Linked DNA regions of Homo sapiens. The protein of the gene in region 1 interacts with the protein of each later gene in a biochemical or structural test. Each region holds a gene or a part of one and is shown in the gene's direction. Other genes may lie near its edges.

Region 1 (3,748 bases):
CACACCCAGTTAATTTTTGTATTTTTAGTAGAGACGGGGTTTCACCATATTGGTCTGGCTGGTCTCAAACTCCTGACCTCGTGATCCTCCTGCCTCGACCTCCCAAAGTGTTGGAATTACAGGCATGAGCCACTGCATCCGGCCTGAAAGGAACTTTTATCAGTGTATCTTCTCTCAGCTCCTCATGAGGCTTATCCTGGGTGGTGTGTGCTGGAGGCTGGGCAGAGGGTGCTTCTTAGACAACTTCCAAGGTAAGTTCATAGGCAACATTTCCTTTGCTACTCTCTCTTTTCTTCTCTCTCGTCCTCAGGATTACCCTCTGCATCTTTTCCATATGAAAACCCCATTTCCTCTTTCCTTTATTGAATGCCCCTCAAAATCAGAACTTACATCATTAGGCATTATTCTCTATTTCCTTGATGATATGGAGGATGAGATTTTCAGACACTATGCAGAGGTAAGGGGAAATATTTATATTCTGCATGAGAGTTGGGAGAGGGGAGAAAGAAATCCTCCACCCCAGATCGGGTTAATTCATCAAAGCAACTCATTAAATTTTCGTGTTAAAAGAAGTTGAACATTCACACTTCGCTCTACTTGGAGCTTCATTAAAATGCAAATGAACACAGAAGGGTATCTGTTCTTAGTTATCTGGCCTAACTAAAGATTAATTGCAAACCCTTTCCTGAGAGTAATTTTTGATAAATGAGAACTAGGGGGAAATTAGGTGCTTGAGAGAGATGCAGAAAGGGCACAGCTGGAGGATGTGACAAGAAAAGAATTGGAAAGACTATGGGAAGGTTTTGCTGTAGCACTGCACAACTAAAGTTATATTTACTTCCTAAACCACAAACTTAAAATACGCATATAATTATACTTTCCAAAGAAATATCATGGTTTATTCCTTCCAACTACCTATGAATCTTGCTCTCAGTAACCATGCCTGTCTTCTCCATAGTCACACCCACCTGGTCTAAACTATACCTTTCTCTTTTGCAACAAACTTAAATTCACTAACCCTATCTGTGAACTTGGATACAATTCCCTCATCTTTCATGTGCCACCAGTCCAAAATAAAGATTTTCAATGCTAGTAACTTTATGTATACCTCAGTGAGCATCCAATAAATTCTGTACTCTCAGCCTACATCCCCATAACTGCTCTTTTGAGAAGAGATGAGACCAGAACACACCTGAGATGTTCAAAGCAAAGATGTCTAAGGGATTCAAAGCTAACTTCAAACCAGAGCATGTCTAGCAAGTTGGCTTTTTCAAAGAACTCCAACATCATTGGAGGGACTAAGAAAGCATGGGAGAAATGAATGCTATAATAGGAGTGAATGGGAAGCAATTTGAGACCAAAAGTAGAGAATCTAAGTAGCAAAAAATGACCAATTTTGTAAAAAAATCAAAAGTTGCCAATAAATGGCTATCAATGAACAATAGGAAATGCCATTAGCATCAGCGGTAGTGGGAGTATTATCAGATATGTTACCCAAGGATTCTACACAAAGGAAGAGGAAAGTTTGGGATATTTGAAGACATGATGACTTTACTGTAATAATTATTATCTATTACCTTGATCGTCTTCTTCAAAGTTAGAGTGGTCTAGGGAAGCTAGGGACAAGTTTTTATTAACTTTGTTAGTCTACCCACCTTTCTCCCAACACTTCAAGAATTTGTGGCCTGGGAAAACTGTGTTATAATAGGACATCCCAAAGCTGCTGGAACATCCTGACGCTCTGAAATTGAAATACTTTTCTGGGAGCTGATACATTTATTTAGCTGCTGACCATAACACACCAAAGACTGCAACAGACCCCACCCTGGAAGAAAAGCAGGCAGAGAATAAGGAAGTCATATATCACTGGAGAAAAATTAGGATTCTCCAAGCTGTGCATACTTTTTGTTTTAAATTTTTTACACAGGCTTGACAATGTTTAGAAAAGCCAGTCCAACATTACCAATAAAAGATTAGTGTTTAACCCCATATCCCATAATTGACACTGCAAATAAGACATTTAGGATTTATCTTGAAATTCCTACTGAAGTTCGATTTTCTTTTAATCACTGCTAAATCTGCATCAAGTTACACAAACTTTCTAACAGAAAAGTGTTTGTGACTAACAATAAATGAACTCCGTTCTTAGTAAGTTAATTTTAAAACATAGATGATCATTCTATCTCCTTAGTTTTGGTTGCCAATGCAAATGAGTCAGAGGATTTGCTTCAGACACTGAGATAATTGTGTAACTCTACAGCGGAAAATGCCATTGGAGAGTACTTGCTGACCTCACAGTTGAAAAAAACTATTTAAAAGATGTGGAAACCAGATGTTTCAGTCACATTTCAGCCACTGCTCTGAGAATTTGTGAGCAGCCCCTAACAGGCTGTTACTTCACTACAACTGACGATATGATCATCTTAATTTACTTATTTCTCTTGCTATGGGAAGACACTCAAGGATGGGGATTCAAGGATGGAATTTTTCATAACTCCATATGGCTTGGTAAGAACCTTCACTCATGAGCCTCTTGTTGAGAATGTCAATTCTTTAAATCATGGAGAAGGAAATTTAAAGCAGTAACTTTTTCTATTCTGTACAAGGCTGATGTTCTCAAAGAAAATGCTTAGGAAAGATAGCCTTTGGAATACATACGCTTTTTTTTTTTTAAGCGTTCTTGTCCTCTAAAATTTAAAAATAGCATTTTATAAAGTGAATTGTTCAGTAGAAAATAGCAGTTAATATTTATATTCAGTATGAAAATATATTTTTAAACTTTTCAAAGCAGATGTAGTAGTACAGTGAGGAGTATTTCTTTAACCAACTAGAAACTCCAATATAGTCTTCTGTTTTTATGTCAATGCATTTGCAATCAGATTTCAGAATCCTAACAGGTAAATTGGAGTCTACGAAAATTTTATAATAATTGCTTCATGGACTCTGAGCTATAGTCTATATCTTAGTTTTTTCAAACATTTTGACTATTTTGACCAAGCCAGCTTGCAGTACAGAAAAAAGTGAAAAATGTTTCTCCTTCTGAATGCATTCTTACCACTTTGATTCTTTCTGTTTCTACTATCCATATAAATACTTTTCTGACCCTTTTGTTAGACAAGGAAAGTTTCTTTTGTTATTTTGTTTTGTTAAATGTAAGGAATGAGACAGGCCAAACAGTGAAGATAAACAATAGATCAAAAAAGGAAAATGCAGAAAATCCAAAACACCCCTTAGATTACAGTATGCTAAACAATGCTTTAATTCTCATGATACAAATTGATATTGCTCTATGTTCATTATTGTGTTTAATAGTAAAAAAAAATTGAATTTCTTGGGGAAAAATGCATAGATTCTTGCATAGAATAAAGAAATAAAGAGAAGGCGAAATTAACCTAGATTTTGATTTTATGCTTTCTAAACAGCACAGTTGTAGAATATTTTCCCTTTCAGCATGTTTCTCTCTGGTAATAACTGCAACCATGCGGATTTCATTAAAAAGCCTAATTTGTAATGCACAGCCTTGCCGCCTATTTTTTTCAGCTTGAGCCAGTGAACTAATTTCACTGTGATCCATTTGGCCAAGACGGGATCTGAAATTTAGTAGAGGAATGAGCCCATCTCTTTATTTTAGTTGAATACAGTCAAATATAGGAAATACACTCATATTTGTCAGGATTTTTTTTAAATGTCATAAAGCTAGTAAGAATTAAATCCAGGCAGATAAACTTTGAAATATTATCAAACCCTC
Region 2 (3,748 bases), on another chromosome or scaffold:
TAGTTTTGGGTTTCATATTCCTTTGAGGCACTGCCAAGGTTACAGACTGGTAGAGGAACTTAAGACTTTTGGGAAAAAAAAGGCCTGGACACTCCTACTCCCTTGCAGCCTCCCACCCTCCATCCTCACCCCAAGACCCCAAGAAATTGGTATATGGGGTCTTGGCTGGGGTGGAAGCAGAGACTACAAGGATTTTCTCCCCATGATACCACAACATTTGCCACAGGGTAGAAGAGTCTGGGACTTCCATGCCGACAACAGCTATTTGGTTCCAGACTGGAAAAGTGGGCTCTGCTGGAATGGAGGCAGGACCCTCACAGGGCTCTGTACCCTGATGGGGCAGAGAGATGGTGACAGAGCCACCCAGCTCGGCCCTGGGCCTGGGGGCCCAGCTAAGCAGGGCTGCATCTCCTCTCCCATTCCAATCCTGAGTCCTCACCACTCCACGGTGCCTCCTGCCTTGGCTCTGTCCCTGTTACCTCTTTCAGTCTGGAATTGTTTCTGTTTCCTAAGAATCTTCAGCCTGCACAGCCCTGCCCTCCCATACCCACCTCCCAGAGAAGTTGCACCCTCCAGCTCTGCCTGCCCAGCTCAGCCCTTAGCCACTGAAGGGGCCAAAAACTGACCCCCTAAGTCAGCCCTAAGATGATATCTCTGGCCTCTTCAGAGTGCTGAGCTAGTCTGAGGCCTCTCCACCTCTTTCCAGACTGCAGCCTCACCCCTTGGGGAAGGCATTCATAGCTGAGGCACCAGAGGCCTCCACGGCCCCTCCTACAGCTCTGTTCTTTCTTCTCAAGCTGCTGACCCCCTGTTCTGCTCTCCCTCCACTGTCCCCAACTGTCTCTCCCCCACTTTGCCAAGCATCCACCCCTTCAGCCTAAGACTCCTTCCCCTCGGGTACTGGTCCTTCCATTCCAGGACAGCCAGAGTATGGTGGCACCCAATCAGGGAGACCACCATGCAGCCTGAGGGGTTTGTGACCCTCCACCTGGGAGATCCCAGGGGAAGAAGGAAGAAGGGGGGCCTTGGAATTCACTCTGTCCCACACTGTGCTGGCAGATGTTTAACAACCAGCTCTCATAGAGGAGAAAGGAGCCCTGATTGTAGCATCTGCCAATTCCTGAGGTGTAAATGCTTCCACCGGGGCCAGTTTAAAGCTATCAACATGATGTCACTGAAGGCGAGGTTGAGAGGAGACACTAACAATGAGCTCTCTCAAAGCTGAGTGAGCCAGCTCAGCATGGCTCCGCCTGTCCCCTAGGCTGTCCAAGAACTCCAAGCCAGCCCCTTCTCCAGACTGAGAACCCATTACGAATTTAGGTTTGTGAGGAGAGAAGCTCCTCCCCTCTTCCCATTCACCCCCAAAATAAAAAGCCAGGGCCCCTGGATCCCAGACCCCCAATGGGCTATCTGACCCCTGCAAGAGGCAGGCACAGTGTGCTTAACTAAAGCCAACTCTGATCAACAGCCTTAGAGCTCTGAGTCTTCTCCAGACCCCAAGCAGACTTATTTCTGCTCCTCTGTTCCCACCTGAGGTTCTGCAGGAAGGAAACTGCCAGCTCCGCTCCATGCCCCAGCGCTACCAGCTTCCACTGCCTCCACACACTTCCCCACAGCTCCACTCCCTCTCTCCCTGGAGCCCCCCAGAGCCACAGAACCATGTTTTGCCTTAAATCTCAAGACCTCTCACCTTCCCACCTCTTTTGAACTGGACTGCTGACCTCTGCCGGCCCAGCAGAGCAGGCATCAAGAGGAGGAAAGCTTGGGAGAGGGTGAGGGGGGAGGGCGTGGCATCAGGGAAGGAAAGGGCCCCTGGCATTTTCCCGAGTGGAAGCATGTGCAGAGGCTCCCAGGGACCAGACCAGTTTCCAACCTGAACTCCTCCAGCTGTGCCTCTCCCTTCCCTTGAGGGCACAGCATGGAAGGTGGGGTGAACGCAGGAACCTATGCCATAAGACTGGCAGCATCTGCCATCCCCTGGTGGCCTCTGCCCCTCCCTTCAAGCCCCTGACCTGTGTTGCAGACCAGGAGGTATGTGAGGAGGGCTGGAACAAGTACCAGGGCCACTGTTACCGCCACTTCCCGGACCGCGAGACCTGGGTGGATGCTGAGCGCCGGTGTCGGGAGCAGCAGTCACACCTGAGCAGCATCGTCACCCCCGAGGAGCAGGAGTTTGTCAACAGTGAGTGCGGCGGGGCCTCTGGAGCCTGAGAGGAGAGTGGCGGTGTAGGCAAAGGGCCTCACCTTTCAGAAGGCAGCAGATTTGGGCCTCGTGAGACTGCAGGACAGGGACCTGGGGGAGGGGGAACAGTGTTCCCACAGTCTGAGCTCCCAGAGAGAAGACAACGGTCTTTGGGGCCAGAAGCTGTGGCTGCAGCCAGGGCAGACCCATTGCCAGCCAGAGTCAGCCCAAGACTAAGCTATGGCTGTCACCCGTCCATGCCAGCTTGGAGAGGTGGCCCGAAGTGCACTCCAGGCATGCACGTGCTGAGCCTCTTGTGAGGACCTGAGAAGCACGTGCCTTGCTCCTAGGAGCCCACCCACCTCCTTTCCTCCTCCATCCCCTCTGCCTCCGTGAGCTCAAGTTTCTCAGACACCCTCAGGGTGTCCAGTGTGATGCCTGACACCCTCACCCTTTCCCCAGACAATGCCCAAGACTACCAGTGGATCGGCCTGAACGACAGGACCATCGAAGGGGACTTCCGCTGGTCAGATGGACACCCCATGGTGAGTTCTGCTGTAGGCACAGCTGGTGGCCCAGGGGACAGGGAGTGGGATAGAGACCCCTGGAGAGAGATGCATTCAAACCCCATGCAGACAGCCGCTTACCAGCTGCTGGACCGGGAACCCTTGAGGGCAGGGATTATCTCCTTCATCTCTGCCTCTGGAACCCAGCCCGGGGCTGGACAGATTGAGCTAATGATGGCAAGAGGCAAGGAGCCAGGAAGGAAATGAAGGAATAACAGCCACCACCATGAGGAGTATACGGAAGCTTTAGAGAGGTTTCTTGCCCACACTGAACTCGAGTCTACTCAAGGAGACAGACAGAAAGCAACATAGATGCCAAGTGAATGGTACGGGCACCCAGTGATTCTCTTTGTCCTGAAGCAAGGCTGGAAGGATAAGTCTTGGGAGGACTTCTTGGTGGGCAGAAGCTGGACTTAAGAGCTGTGTTCCTACCATCCATCCCTACCCAATGTGGTCAGCCCTGGTTGGCCCTTCTGGATAAGAGGTGTGGAATCAGCTCATGTACAGAGCCTGTGAGTCTTGGGGGTTCTGAGCTCCTGAGAAGGACCTGAGCCAAGCTGTGTGACTGATTCCCTAGAGGGCCACCGGGTTCCATGGCCCCTAGAACAGCCCTGATCAGATTCCCAGCAGTTTTTGTGCTGCTATCAGATGAGCCTGAAGTTGGTGCTAAAAGAGAAAGGAGATGATGAAGAGGCTCCACGGGGAAGACAGTCGGAGCAGGCCAACCCGCACTGTCCTGCCCTCTCCTTACTCCTTCCCCACTCCCACCCACAGCAATTTGAGAACTGGCGCCCCAACCAGCCTGACAACTTTTTTGCCGCTGGAGAGGACTGTGTGGTGATGATCTGGCACGAGAAGGGCGAGTGGAATGATGTTCCCTGCAATTACCACCTCCCCTTCACGTGTAAAAAGGGCACAGGTAAGCTGGCGCCTGGGAGGGGTCAGGGGAGGATAGGATCAAGACCTCCAGCTACAGGTGAGGCTCTTGCTGTGTGGCCTG
Region 3 (3,748 bases), on another chromosome or scaffold:
TCGATTTTGTGTTTTAAATGACATAGCCCCACCAAGGTGCCCTCATCCATGCTTGAAATGTTGAGTTTCCTGTGTCTTCCCCACTGCCCTCGTAGGTAGAAAGTCTTTTACTCTGCCTGCATCTCACCAGAAGTCTTATGAGGAAGGTGCAACTAGGTTTAAAAAAGGAGGCTCTTGGCAGGAAGCCTAGGTGTATTTGCTGGAATTTCAGATCTTCTGAGCAGAGCTCTTGGCTGCTGTGGGGCACTGCAGTGAATTTATGTCCCTAACATGTTCCCTACAGAAAAAAGAAGTGACAGGGCTCTTGAATTCTGAGGGTCCGGGCATCCCAGACAAAGTATCGTATTATCTTTTCGGATGGAAGAAATCCCTGTAGAGATGGTTAAAGACTGGCATTCACATAAGTTTTGTGCCCTGAAATTCATAGCTATCAGATATTTGTAGAAATAAAGACTCTTCTAAATGACCACTTGTGTCTGGGCCAAGGCAGAACTAGAAAGAAGGACTCAGTGGGTAGTTGGAGTCAGTGGTGGTCTCTATTTACCCATGAGAAATAGATTCTTGGAAATAGGATAGGAATGCTTATAAGATTTGGACCAACAGAAAGCCTATGATCTCATAAATTCATGAATCCCACAGTCTATAATCTATTTGACTTCACTCTCAAATGCCTAGGACCATTTGGACTAAGGCTGGCAAGTCAGAAAATTGCAGTTTTTATTTTCAACTCCACACAATTTTCACCAAGTAAAAAACCTTCATGTTTTACGTGAATTTGCTTCTACGATCCATAGATGACTGGATGTTCTCGGGCGGGGTAAAGGCAAATGAATTTGTGTCCTCATTGGCAAATGGTGTTGGTGGTGGTGTTATCTTGTCTAAAATCCACAGGAACCTGTGTTTCAGGACCCTGTCTATTGTCCTGACCATTCAGAATGCATGCCAAGCCCCTGCTCTTCCTGGAGTTATCTTTATCACCTCTCCTCAAGTTTTATCTTGCACCATATAAGTCACATTGTATTTCAATATTAAAATGCAACATTAATAGATAAGCTGGAGAATCAAGACATTTCCAAGAAGACAGGGGACGCCTTTTCTAATATATCGTCTGATTACACCCTCTTTCTTTTGGGTGCTAGCTTAAGAAGCCAAACCAAAGCACAAATGAACAGAGAAGTCAACACATCCGACCCCAAACCCTCAGGACGCTGGCTTGGGTTACATGTGGCCCTCTCTGTGGTCAGTTTGTGAGTAGCCTCCCCGGAGGGTGTGTCCCAACTTCCAGCAGCTGCCGTGGAAAGCCACGTGTCCGCTAAACGCCTACATTACATCAATAAGAGAAACTAAGGAAGGGATGGAAAAGCTATCATTTTTCTTTTCTTCCTCAGTTCTGGCAGTATAGTGATTTAATCGCTGTTATTATTTTTATTTAGTTAAAGCATCAACTTAGGCCTTTTAAATGATGGTAAAAGAGAAAGCTTCAGATCGGGGTATTGGTCAGATCATTCTTACTAGCGATGACCTCTTCGCCTTTGGCACCTCGCGGCTCTTCGCATGCCTCCAAGAATTCCCGGGTCTTGAAACCTACGCGCGGCGGAGGCGACGCCTCTCGGGAGAGGGAGGGTGAAAGAAGGGGCGGGGCTATTTAAATAGCCCGCGAGCTTCGCGTCCCCATTGGCTGCCAGCCTGTCGGTTACCGCGGGGCGGGGAGTCCCGGGGCTGGAGTGAGGTACCTGAGCCGGGCGCGCAGCAGAAAGCCCACGTTGGCCGCTGCGGGGAGCGCGGCGTGGAGAGGCGGGAGACCGAATTCCGGCGCCGCCGCCGCGGCCGCTGCTCGGTGCACTAGCCCCCTTCCTTCCCATCCTTTCTGCGAGCGGGTTTGCTGGGCAGCCGGGCGACCGCCGAACGGAAAGCAAGATCCTCGCCGCCTCCGCTTGAGGAGGCGTGCGGCGCGCGGAGATTTTGAGTGGGAGCGACGGTGCCCGAGAGCTCAGGGGCGCGGAGTTCGTGAGCGAGAAGGAAGTTAAACCTCGCGGAATAGACTGGCATTTCGGGACGCCTTGTCGCCGCAGCCTGGGCCCTGCAACGGGGTAAACTTCATGGTGGCCCTGCGATCTGGGGAGGGGCGTGCGCCACGGTGATGCCGGGCATCTCCCGCAGCTCGTGAGCGGCCCCGCTCCCCGCTGCCCCGGGTCCCACTCAGTCGCCAGGGAGAGCGCGGGGCAGCGCACGTGTGCGGCCAGCGAGGCCCAGAGTGACCGCGCCGCGACTCGCAGGAGCCAGGGCGCAGGCTGCAGTGCAGCCCGGACTCAGACGCACCTGGCCTGGACCGCGCGCCTCTAGAGACCTGCGCGAGGCTGTGAGGCTCCCCTTCCTCCCCTCCAAGCGGTTCTCCTGGTGATCGCCCCTTCGCCACCTCTCTAGCCTGGGCAACTGGGGGCGCCCCGGACGACCATGAGAGATAAGGACTGAGGGCCAGGAAGGGGAAGCGAGCCCGCCGAGAGGTGGCGGGGACTGCTCACGCCAAGGGCCACAGCGGCCGCGCTCCGGCCTCGCTCCGCCGCTCCACGCCTCGCGGGATCCGCGGGGGCAGCCCGGCCGGGCGGGGATGCCGGGGCTGGGGCGGAGGGCGCAGTGGCTGTGCTGGTGGTGGGGGCTGCTGTGCAGCTGCTGCGGGCCCCCGCCGCTGCGGCCGCCCTTGCCCGCTGCCGCGGCCGCCGCCGCCGGGGGGCAGCTGCTGGGGGACGGCGGGAGCCCCGGCCGCACGGAGCAGCCGCCGCCGTCGCCGCAGTCCTCCTCGGGCTTCCTGTACCGGCGGCTCAAGACGCAGGAGAAGCGGGAGATGCAGAAGGAGATCTTGTCGGTGCTGGGGCTCCCGCACCGGCCCCGGCCCCTGCACGGCCTCCAACAGCCGCAGCCCCCGGCGCTCCGGCAGCAGGAGGAGCAGCAGCAGCAGCAGCAGCTGCCTCGCGGAGAGCCCCCTCCCGGGCGACTGAAGTCCGCGCCCCTCTTCATGCTGGATCTGTACAACGCCCTGTCCGCCGACAACGACGAGGACGGGGCGTCGGAGGGGGAGAGGCAGCAGTCCTGGCCCCACGAAGCAGCCAGCTCGTCCCAGCGTCGGCAGCCGCCCCCGGGCGCCGCGCACCCGCTCAACCGCAAGAGCCTTCTGGCCCCCGGATCTGGCAGCGGCGGCGCGTCCCCACTGACCAGCGCGCAGGACAGCGCCTTCCTCAACGACGCGGACATGGTCATGAGCTTTGTGAACCTGGGTAAGGATTTGGGGTAACGTAATGACGAGAACATTTCCCCCTTTTCAGTGTCCCGGGCCCAGGGGATGGAGTGAGGGGGTGGAGGAGCTCCCGGCGCGCGGGTCCCGCCTGGTGCGCCAGAGAACGCGGGGACAGGCAGGCTGTGCTCCCGCCACCTGCGCGGCGGTGGGCGGCACATGCGCTCCCCCGCGCCGCGGGCAGGGCTGCGCGCCGAGGCCCCCAGAGGCGGCTGGCCGGCCGGGCCGCGGGGCTCCGGGAGCGCTGTCCCCAGCGGGCGTGTATTTGCGGACTCCCTGAGCACGTTCCGCGCTTTTTTTCACTTCTGCCCAGCTCTGGCCAGGTTAACTCAACTGCAGCAGGAGAGTCCAGCCCGAGTGTGGCCATCCTGGGAAGAGGGCTCTTCAGTACGATTTTCCCCTCTAAACTGCCGCCTTTTGCCCCCTAACTTGGAGTGCAGTTTTCCCACCGAGACTTTT

The links.
Region 2: the proteins of TNFAIP6 (region 1) and ACAN form a complex in vitro, tested with the Homo sapiens proteins (one study listed by BioGRID).
Region 3: the proteins of TNFAIP6 (region 1) and BMP6 form a complex in vitro, tested with the Homo sapiens proteins (one study listed by IntAct).

What each region holds. Positions count from the first base shown.
Region 1 is NC_000002.12:151,355,253-151,359,000, forward strand, and holds the start of TNFAIP6 (tumor necrosis factor-inducible gene 6 protein precursor), read left to right. Parts: upstream 1-2,339; 5' UTR 2,340-2,414; coding exon 2,415-2,508; intron 2,509-3,748. UniProt on the Homo sapiens protein: Major regulator of extracellular matrix organization during tissue remodeling. Catalyzes the transfer of a heavy chain (HC) from inter-alpha-inhibitor (I-alpha-I) complex to hyaluronan.
Region 2 is NC_000015.10:88,869,359-88,873,106, forward strand, and holds part of ACAN (aggrecan core protein isoform 3 precursor), read left to right. Parts: intron 1-2,023; coding exon 2,024-2,182; intron 2,183-2,644; coding exon 2,645-2,727; intron 2,728-3,522; coding exon 3,523-3,667; intron 3,668-3,748. UniProt on the Homo sapiens protein: This proteoglycan is a major component of extracellular matrix of cartilagenous tissues. A major function of this protein is to resist compression in cartilage. It binds avidly to hyaluronic acid via an N-terminal globular region.
Region 3 is NC_000006.12:7,724,348-7,728,095, forward strand, and holds the start of BMP6 (bone morphogenetic protein 6 preproprotein), read left to right. Parts: upstream 1-1,751; 5' UTR 1,752-2,608; coding exon 2,609-3,272; intron 3,273-3,748. UniProt on the Homo sapiens protein: Growth factor of the TGF-beta superfamily that plays essential roles in many developmental processes including cartilage and bone formation.